2 separate regions of the Homo sapiens genome follow, and region 2 is linked to region 1. The links come from fine-mapping of genetic effects on gene expression. A gene starts in region 1. The other region holds a variant in brackets. All regions are shown on one strand. Distances are between the middles of the regions. Region 1 holds the start of PTGS1 (prostaglandin-endoperoxide synthase 1). Region 2 has its middle 9.2 kb from the start of OR1L3.

The links. PIP is the estimated chance that this variant, and not a neighbour inherited with it, causes the effect.
Region 2: its variant is the best candidate, but not a certain one, in a credible set for the expression of PTGS1 in esophagus muscle (GTEx, PIP 0.76).

What each region holds. Positions count from the first base shown.
Region 1 is chr9:122,367,764-122,373,138 of GRCh38, forward strand. PTGS1 (prostaglandin-endoperoxide synthase 1) reads left to right here and starts at 3,261. Exons shown (of 11, transcript NM_000962.4): 1 at 3,261-3,328; 2 at 3,423-3,509. The coding sequence starts at 3,322.
Region 2 is chr9:122,681,666-122,687,040 of GRCh38, forward strand. It overlaps the pseudogene TLK1P1. Among named protein-coding and RNA genes, the nearest start is that of OR1L3, 9.2 kb to the left of the region's middle. The variant C/G (reference allele first, on the strand shown) is at 2,198.

The sequences.
Region 1 (5,375 bases):
TCACAACAACTCTTGCAAGAGTGGCATTATTAACCACGTTTTTACAGGTGGGGGAACTGAGGTCCACAAAGGGCAGTTTGCTGCTTAAGGTCACACTGAGAGGTCAGGTGGGGTGGAGGACTGGGATTTGAAGAGATATTGGATTGAGTCCAGAGCCTTCCTGCCTGACTGAGAAGCTGCCTACACAGGTGGGGCCGGGTGGGGCTGGGTCCATGAGTGATTCAGGTAAGAGTCAGCTCTGGTTTTCCAAATAGTGGGTGGGGCCCAGCAGGAGTGAGACCTCTCCAGGAGCATTACAATCCAGGCTGTAGCTAGGGTGAGCAGGAGGGCACGTGATTGGTGTGGATAATGGGGAGGGGGCTATGCAGAGAGAAATCCTATCCCTTGTTACCAGTGGGGTATAGGGAAGGAGGTCCTTGCTGCCTTAGCTGGGAAGGGCTCAGGGCCTGGGGTGAAGCTGGGCCTGTGGGACAGCTGGGGGTGCTGGCCCATGGGACAAGCTGGAGAAGGCAGGGAAACTGAGGCAGGCAGTGATACTTTTGGTGGCCGTCACAGCAGATGGGTGGTTGGCAGTCACTTCGATGAGGCTGGTGCTGGACCTGGTCTGTTTTTTTAATGCATTCACTACTCTTTTAGATACTCATTCATTTCTTTGTTCAAGCAACAAACATTCCCTGGATGTCTTTTATCCGCCAGATCCTATGCTTGGCCTTGGGGCTACAAGAGTGACCAGGACTCTTATAGCCTCATAATGTTTGGGGGCAGAGGGACAATGTGATCAGGAGTGGCACTGCTGTGGCCAGGGAAGGCACAGGGGCTTCCTAGAGGAGAGAAGGGGGAGGAGGAGGCATGTTAGAGGAGGCCTACCAGGGGACATGGGAGGTGGACTTGCCCTATAAGTGGAAGCTCACAATCTTGAGGACTAGGATGGTGACACCAGTCCTAGGCATTTAGACTATAGCTTTGCAGTAGGGAGCAGGAAAAGGTGGCCCTGTGCTGTGGTCTCTTTCCCAGGGCTGGGGCAAGGGCTACCCCAGACCTCTCCCCTGTGTATCCAGCTGCATGCTGGGGCGGTTGGGGGTGCTGGCCCATGGGCCAAGCTGGAGAAGGCAGGGAAGGTTTGATCCTCCTCATTCCTTGAAGTGGATCAAATACAAGAAGCCCAAATTCAAATTCCACCTACCCATGCCAGCTCCCCTTCCCTGGATATTACCACCAGCATTGAGCCAGAAGGCTAGGTGTCCTCAGCACCTTTCTTCCCCTAAGCTCTAGTGCTAATCGGTCACCAAGCCCTGGCACTTCTGCCACCATTTCTCTCATCTACCTTCTCCCCACTCCATGCTCTTGGTCCTGCCTCATCCCTGGAGGGCTGCCTCGGCACCCTGCCTGCTCTCTCAGACTCCATCCTCTCCTGTATTGCAGCTGTGTTGAGATCTGTGGTGCTGGTCACAGAGCCTGGCTGCAGTGAGGGCTCAATTGCTCCATGCTGGAACTGGACCAGTCCTCAGAGACCATCTGATCTGCTCATTCTGTTGTTCAAATGGGGAAACAGAGGCCCAGTGAGGCCTAGCGGCTTGTTTAAGGTCACGCTATGGAAGAAGTGACTTGAACTCACTTCTGATTCTGAGGTGAAGGCTCTTCCCATCAGTGCCAGGGCCACACAAGTGTTTCTTGTTTTGAGTGCAGATGGGTGGCTTGGAAGTCAGCAGGAGGCACAGGTGTGGTGACTTGATGGGCTCAGGGCCCAAAGGGAGGGAGGGCCTGGGAGTGGAAGATGGAACCTCATTCAAGCCCGTCTCTCCTTTCTTCTCACCAGAAACTCCCCCTTTCTTTGGACAACTGGACCCCCACACCTCCACCCTGTCCCCATCCCTTTTGCTGATAATCCCATCTCCTTGCCCTGTAAATGCTAGGGGGCCCTTGATTTGGGGAGGAAGGGAAGGCTGAAGCCGGTCCCGGCACCCTGAGAGCCCCAGGGCCCTCCAATGCCCCACTCCTTCTCCAGGTCTGCCCTGGCTTGCTCTGTCTCCCTAGGGCAGCTGGCTTTTGTCCCAGGGGAGCATGGGAACAGCTTGGGTGAGAATGGGGGAGGGGCTTCCCAGCAGGTTTCACCTCTCCCACCTGGCATAATTTCTACCCTGCACCCAGTGATGCCCAGGAGCCAGCACAAGAACCTCTGAGCTCTCCTGCCGGCTTTCCCCACTGTGGGGCCCACAGGATGGCTGGGTGTGCTGGGGAAACTGAGGGAGATGACTTGTGGGTGCCAGCACCATGGGACTTTGGGTGATCTTGGACCTATTCCTTCCTCCTTCTAGGTGCTTCCTGAGCTGGCGAAAAGGAGAGCTGGATGCTGGGATTCTATAAATTCGGCGGTGGATGTGAGTCTAGCTACAGCATGGACCCTGGCCAGCCCTGGAATCTGAGTTCAGAGATCTTTGAAAAAATGCCTTCCGATAACTGAGCACCTACTACATGCTGGACACTGCACCAGGAGATTTGTGTGCATTCCCTCATTGAATCTTACAACCACCCTCTGGGATGGTTTTTGCTATTAAGCCGATTTTATAGATGAGAATACTGAGGGCTAGAAAAGATAAGTACCTTGTCCAAGGTGACACGGCCAGTAAGCTGTGGAGTCTGGATTTGAACTAGGCTCTCTTGGAGTTTGGAGCCCGGTCTTTTCATTTCTGGCAGAGACCTGTGGCTTCAGGGGGCGGAGCCCAGCCCATGGGGGAAGTAAGTCCTTCCTGTTAGATCTGTCTGAGGAGTAGTGAGTTTCTCATCTAGGAAACCATCAGCAGGCCAGGCTGGACTGCCCCATTTCTAGCCCCCTTTCTTCTCTGCAGACTGCCCTGTTTCTAGCCCCTTTTCTTCTCTACCCTTTTCTGTAGAGTGCGTTAGACCCATTTTACAGAAGGGGACTCTGAGACCCTTTCTTCTCTGCGGGGCAGGGTATGTGGTTCAGACGAGCCGCTTCCATCCCCAGTTCTGTCCCTAAGCCCTGGGTGACCTCAGCATTGAGCATCGTCTCTGAGCCTCAGTTTCCTGTCTATATCTAGTGCCACCAGGCATCAGAAACGTAAGTGCTTCAAGGATCTTGGGTGAAAAGCCGCTTTAGCGGCGAGCATACACTAATTAATAAAATGCCTTGGCCGGGGCTGGGCAGAGGAAGTAAGCGGGCAGCCGAGGTGACAGCTGGAGGGAGGAGCGGGGGTGGAGCCGGGGGAAGGGTGGGGAGGGGATGGGCTGGAGCTCCGGGCAGTGTGCGAGGCGCACGCACAGGAGCCTGCACTCTGCGTCCCGCACCCCAGCAGCCGCGCCATGAGCCGTGAGTGCGACCCCGGTGCCCGGTGGGGAATTTTCTTGGCCTCCTGGTGGAGCCTTGAATGCCAGGCTCAGCCCCTCATCTCTCTCCTCTGCAGGGAGTCTCTTGCTCTGGTTCTTGCTGTTCCTGCTCCTGCTCCCGCCGCTCCCCGTCCTGCTCGCGGACCCAGGGGCGCCCACGCCAGGTAGGCGGCCCCATCCCTCCCCAAGGGAATCCCCGGTCTTGCGCCCCTGGCCTGGTTTCAACCCCCTCCTTTCCCCTCCAGCGGGCCCAGCTTCCCCTTTCTGCTCGCGGTGCTGAGAAAGACTGAGGCTGAGTCTTTTGGTGGGATGGGGGCTCCCTGAAGCCCCCCCGGCGGTGTGGCCTTGGCTAATGGGCTATCTAGTTCTTTCAGGGGAAACAGCAGACTGGGATCTGGTGCCAACTTGGGGAGAAGGGACAGTCCCTATCCATCCCCCTCACCTGTTCTGGGCCCCAGATGTCTAAGCAGCCTCTGCACCCAACAACCCCGCTGTTTCCTATAGGGGCCTCTTTGGGAGGAAGCCGCAGGCACCAAGGGAAATGAGTTCCCTTTCTCCAGCCTCTAACCGTCTGGGAACCCATCCTGATTCCCATTGCCAGTGGAGAAGGTCTCCCCTGGTGAAGACTTCGGGAGAACATGGGAGATGGAAATACATTTAGGAGCCGGGATGCTTCATCTGGGGTTTAAGAGATCCCCATTGAGCAAATGAGGAAACCGAGGCTCAGTAGGTGCCATGATTCCCCAAGCTCACAAAATACATGGTGGGCCCAGGATCTGAACTCAGGTCTGTCTGCGTCCACACACTTCGCAAGGTCTTTCCACAGAAAGCTGCTTCTACCCACAATGGACCCGGAGCCACTCTGGGTTTCATGGGGGAGGTTGATGGGGAAATTCCGCCCTTCCCTCCCCCATGCATGTGCCAGGTTCCAGGTGAAGGAATTCAGCTCCTCGCTCAGCCAACCTTCCTCCCCCAGCTCGCTGCTTGTGTGTGTGCGTGTGTGTGAGCATGTGTCCCAGTTGGATATAGTTTCCTCCACCACCTAGCTGTGTAAAATCTCTAAAATGAGGCCCAGAGAGGGCAGGAGGGAGCAGAGGGAGTCCGCACTTTCTGCTGTGATGCTCTAAGGATCTGGTGCGTGGGGGAAAGAGGAAAGATATGTACATGGATTTTGGATCAGACCAAGTTTCCTGAAACGGGCTTTGGGTGGGTGGCATTTAGGGGACCCAAAGAGAGGACGGAGGGTGCTCTAGGAAAGGGATTGCGTTGAATAAAAGTCTGGTTTATGGGAAGAGGAGGAGGAAGACTCATGTGGCCAGCACTTTAAAGTTTACAAAGGTTGGTTGTGGACATCCACCTCTTTGGTGCTCTCAACAGCCCTGCCAGAGAGATGCGTTAGACCCAGTCTACAGAAGGGGACTCTGAGGCCCAGAGGGAGTGAAGCCACTTGTCTGAATCCTCACAGTGAGCTGGTGGTGGGGAGTAGAAGGGGCTCTTCAGGTTGCCTCGCTGACCCATCTTGTCAGTCCCTGGATCAGCCCAGCACTTCCTCTGAGGCCCCATCTGGCCTCATCCAGGCACTCTTGGTATACAGGTCCCACCCGTCTGTATTCTTTTTTAGTCCATTCACTAATGCACAATGAGCCATGGTCTGTGCTATTTTGTTTTTTGCCTTTTCTGTTTCCTTTTGTATAATAAATGTTTACACGGAATTGTTTTTTTTTATCCCCAAGGGTTATTTATGCCAGTCTTTGGCTGGGGCCTGGAGACACGGAGCTGGGAGGAGCTGACAGGCTGATGGTGGAGCCAGAAATGCCAACAGACTGTCATCCAAGGGGACCAGGGCTGTGCGGAGCTCATGGGAGGAAGCAGGGGTATAGGGAGCCCAGGGAAGGGAGCAGGGGTGTGCGGAGCTCAGGGGAGGGAGCAGCTGCCTCTCAGTGCGAAGAATTGAGGGAGGCTTCTTGGATCTGATGACTTTTGGACTGGACCTCGAAGGAGGTGGCGGGTGGGGGAAACACTAAGAGACT
Region 2 (5,375 bases), 310 kb after region 1:
ACTGCAAGCTCTGCCTCCCGGGTTCACACCATTCTCCTGCCTTTAATTGCTATAACTTAAGAGCTTTTAAAAAATCTTTTAGGGCAAGTCCTCCATCGTTGTTATTTTTAATTTTTTTGATCATTCTTAAACAATTTCTTTTCTAGAGAAAATTTAACAATGGTTAATCAATTTCACAAAAATTTTCTTGAGATTTTGTATTGTATATATTGAAGGTGTACAACATGATGTTCTGATATATGTATACATAGTGAAATTATTATTATAGTCAAGCAAATGAACATATCCATCATCTTACATAGTTAGCTTTTCTAGTGTACTAAAAAGTACCTAAAATCTATTCTCTTAGAAAATTTTCAGTGAGCAATATGGTATTGTTTAACCCATTTCCTGTTTGCCCCAAGAATACACTTGTCTCTAATCCTAATGTAACAGAAATGTTACATTGTTTTTTATCCATAAAATGGTTTCAACATTCAAGAATTACTGTGAAGATTAAATGTTTTATGTGTATAAAATGCTTAGACCAGTGCCTGGTTCATAGTAAGCATTTAGTCAATGTTGTTGTTGATGCTGTCACTCTCTTACCTGTTCCTTTCATAATACCTAATGTGATAAGATGGAAGACCTGATTTGAACATCCTAAGAAGATGAACTAAAGTTGCTTCATCCAGAGTATGAATTTAATGGAAAATAGAACAGTTTAGACAAGAAAGGGATTAAGAAGGCTGACTAGATGAAGGTAGTATGTTCCTCCTCCAGGGAGAGGAACCAGAATAGAAAGTAGGTACATTTCAAACAGACCATCTAGAAGAGAATGCTAGGATTCACCAGAGAAAATACAAGAAGCACCAAAAATAAGTAAAGAGAAGGTTCAGGACACCTTGCCTAGTGAGGGACTAACTGAGAGCTGAGAGAGGCTCCTAGATATGGGGAAACAGTAAGAGAGAAACTCCCAGGTTTCTCTGGACTTTGGGAGAAAACTTTGACCCTCTAGACCTTGGGCCTGACATACAGAGCTGCCTAAAGATTGCACAGAGATGTCATTCCAGAAAGGGAACCCACATGGAATCTCACAGGCATCCGAGCCTAGACCAGCCTCAGCCAGGTGCCATTTAGAGAGCCCAGATACTGGCGATCTACATACTTAGCTGCTGCCACTGTGCTGCTTCAAGGAGAGATAGGAGAGACTGGGTGCTCCCGTGCACCCCTGGGAGGATCCCTACCACTCTGCTGTGGAATGCTGTTGAGATTGAGATATGAGCAGACCACATTTCCCACAGCTTCTTGCCCATGGTGCTCACCTGAGAGGGGATCCACGCTCTCTGGTAATAAGCCCACAACTGACACCATTTTAAGAGTTTAATCCTGGGATTTGCCTCACCCTTGGGCCAAGTTTGAGTTGCCATGGCTGCAGCCAGCACCCAGTCAAAAAGGGACAAGGAAACCAAGCTGTCCTACACATATATAGGACAATATTCACTACCCTGCTACAGGCTGCTGTGAGACTAAGACTTGAGCAGACCCCATTCCCCATAGTTTCTTGCCCATACTGCTTGCCTTAGGGGGTCCTCCCCTCTCTGGTCACAAACTGACAGCTAGCTTCATTTCGAGAGTTTAACACTGAGCTGTGCCCCACACTTGGCCCAAGTTCAAGGCAATACAGCTGCAGCTGCCACTCAGCTGGGAGAGAGACAGGGGAGGCAAAGCTCTCCTAAGCACACTAAGGGTAATACCCATCACCCTGCTACAGTGGCTCTGGGACTGGGGACTAGCCTGCTCAACCCATCACAGCTATCAAGAACACCAATATGGACCACTCGGGTCCCTGTGGTTTGCTCCACCACTGATACTGCCATCACCCACATTACACCAGCTGTCACAGGATATGAGAACCCACCCACACACCTGGCCTACCAATCCCACTACTAGCTTCTAGTCAAGCCACTTGGGGCCCAAGAACCAGCCCTCCAGGACACTTTAACACCAAAGTCACTGTAAGTTGCTCTGGGCTTAAAAACAGGCACATTAAACCCACTGCTGCCACCACAGGGACCTGGAGACTGGCTCAGTCAGTGTCCAAGTCCCCAGCAAAATCTTGCCACAACCTCAGCTAATAACTGTACCCTAAGCCACTGAGGAAATCACGGATACCACTGACTCTGTATACTGCTAAAGAGTTCATGCAAAGATCACA[C/G]TATTGCAGGCACCCATAATCCTAGCCAAAGTATCCTTCTCAACCAACAACATACACATATCTTCAGGAAAGAAATTCCCTTACCAAAGCAATTTCAAAAAAAAATTGGAACCAGCAACTGCTTCACCAGATGCTCAGATATCAAAAGGACACAAAAAACATGAAAAATTGGGGAAATATAACACCACCAAAGGACCACAACTGTCCTGCAACAGATCCCAATAAAAAAAATTCCTCAAAATGTCAAGTAAAAGATTCAAAATATTGATTTTTAAAGGAGCTCAATGAGATGCAAGAGAAATCTAAAAACTAATATAAAGAAGTCCAAAAATCAACTTAGGATATGACTAAAAAATTACCAAGGAGATAGATATCTTTAGGGAAAAAAAAGCAGAAATTCTGGAATGAAAAATTCATTCACTGTGGAGTGCAGTGGCTCATGCCTAGAATCCCAGCATTTGGGAAGGCCAAGGTAGGAGGATCACTTGAGGTCATGAGTTCAAGTCCAGCCTGGGCAACATAACAAGATCCCATCCCCACAAAAAAAAAAAAAAAAATACAAAAATCACCCAGGCACAGTGGTGCATGCCTGTAGTCCCAGTTACTTGGGAGGCTGAGGCTGGAGGATCACTTGAGCCCAAGAGTTCAAGGCTGCAGTGAGCTATGTTCACACCACTGCACTACAGCCTGGGCAACAGAGCAATACTGTCTCAAAACAAAAATCATTGAAGGAAATAAAACATACATTTGAAAACTTCAATAATAGACTAGAAAGCAGAAGGAAGAATCTCAGAAATAGAAGACAAGTCTTTTGAAATAATACAGTTAGACAAAAGTAAAGAAAAAGAATAAGAAAGAAGGAGCAAAGCCTTCTAGACACCTGGGACTACATAAGATGAGCAAACCTATGAATTATTGGTATTCCAAGGGGGAAGAGTGATCAAAAAGTTTAGAAAATCTATTTGAGGAAATAGCTGATGAAAATTTCCCAAGCCTAGCAAGAGAGTCTGATATCCAGATATAGGAGGCCCAGCTATCCCCAGGAAAAAACATTGCAAAAAGACTTCAACATAACATGTATTATTCAGAATGTCTAAAGTCAAAGTAAATGAAAGAATTTTAAAATTAGCAAGAGAAAAGCAGCTAGTCATCTATAAAGGAAACCTCATCAGATTAACAGCAGACTTTTCAGCAGAAACCTTATAGGTCAGAAGACAATGGGATGGCATTTTCAAAGCACTAGAAAGAAAACCTGTCAGCCAAGAATTTTATATTCTACCAGAAAAAGCTTCATAAATGCAGGAGAAATGAAGTCTTTCTCAGACAATCAAATGCTGAATAAATTTGTCACCTCTAGACTGGCTATGCAGGAAATGTTCAGAGGAGTCTTAAACATGGAAATGAAAGGTCAGTATTCATTATGATGAAAACACATGGAAGAATAAAACTAACAATTCTTATAAAATAATCACACAAAGGAGGAGGAGAAAAGAATCAAATGGCAACATGACATAATTTGTTAAAACCGTAAAGATAAAAAGAGAAAAAAAAGAAAAAAATTATAAAACGATTTGTAAAAATTAATAATATGACAGAAACAAAGCCTCACATATCAATAATAATCTTGAATGTAAATAAATGTTCCACTTAAAAGATAAAGATCGGCATAATGAATAAAATAAAATCAAGATCCAGCTATACGCTGCTAACGAGAAACTCACTTTACCCATAAAGACACACACAGACTGAAAGTAAAAGAGTGGGAAAAGATAGTTCATGCAATTGGAAATCAAAAGCAAGTACGTGTAGCTATATTTCTATTAGATAAAACAGACTTTAAATCAAAAACAGCAATAGGCCCACACTCAGACCCTAGCCCTGGTGGGTGCCCCCACCACACCTCAGCCACTGGGCTCCTTCCCTCAGCCTCTTCTCTGGTGCGCCCACCCACTCCCTTACTTCTCCCCCTTTCCCTCCTCCCCATCCGCTCTCCTTCCCTCACCTCTTTCCTCCCCACCTCCCCTCGTTTCCTCCCCCATCCCCTTGACTCTCCCCTCCCTGCCCTCACTCTCTTGCTCACCCTCAGCCAAGCCCCCACTATGATGGAGGCAGGTGCCAGTGCCATTGTCACTGCTGTCATTGCAGAGTGGGAGTCAGGTTCCCAGAAAGCAGCTTGATGAGTGTCCAAAGTAGGAGTGGAAGTTTGGAGAGGCCACCATCTTGGTCCCACCTCTCCACATCTCCAACTCCAGGCTCAGCGGCAAGCGGCAGCCAGGTCCCTGATGAAACACACACCACCATCCAGGAGGCCCAGGGAAGGTGCAATGGATGAGCTTTGTAGTCTGAATCCAAGAAGGCAAGAGTTATTGGAAGCTAGATTTATTGGAGTTGTAAGTGGGAACACTGGGAGTACCAGCAGTTGCAGTGTTGGAGCTAAAGCCTCAACAGATAATGAAAGCTCTTATCACAGTTTTGGAAGCTTAGGATCTTTAAGTGACAAAGAATCAGAGAAACGACTGGCAGGCAGCTGAAAGGACTATAACAGTGACTGGACTTTATCTGCAGTGGGTTCCCTTGAGAAGCCAGAGAAGAAACAATCAGAATCATCCAGGGGAAGATAGAGAAAAGCAGAAAACCAGAATGAAAATTGTCAGGGAAAAAGTATTGGGGGGACGTGGCCACAAAAGTAGTGACTATTTTGAATACCAGGGTGGAAATGGCTCAAGTCCAGTAAGAGGCATACCTCCTGCAATCAGTTCTCCTCAAAATTCACATTCACATTCCACTCCTTCCTCATCTCTTCGACCAAATAGCCCTTCTCCTACTGCATTAGCATTTGGGGACCACCCTATTGTACAACCAAAGAAGTTATCCTTTAAAATTATTCAGACTGATCTCACAATCCTGAAATTAGCAGCATTAGAAAGTAATAAAATCCAGGACCTGGAAAAGAAGGAAGGATGTATAGATTATTTGCTCAGGGCTAACCGTGATCTCAGATGGCAAATAGATGAACAAAAAAAATTACTTGAAAAATACAAAGAATGATTAAATAAGTGCATATAAATGAGCAAGAAACTTCTTTTGAAAAGAGTACACAAGAAAAACTGTCAGAGAGAAGAGTATGCAAGATTGATTGCGTCTCAGGCACTTTACAACAGTTAGACATGGCACTTCA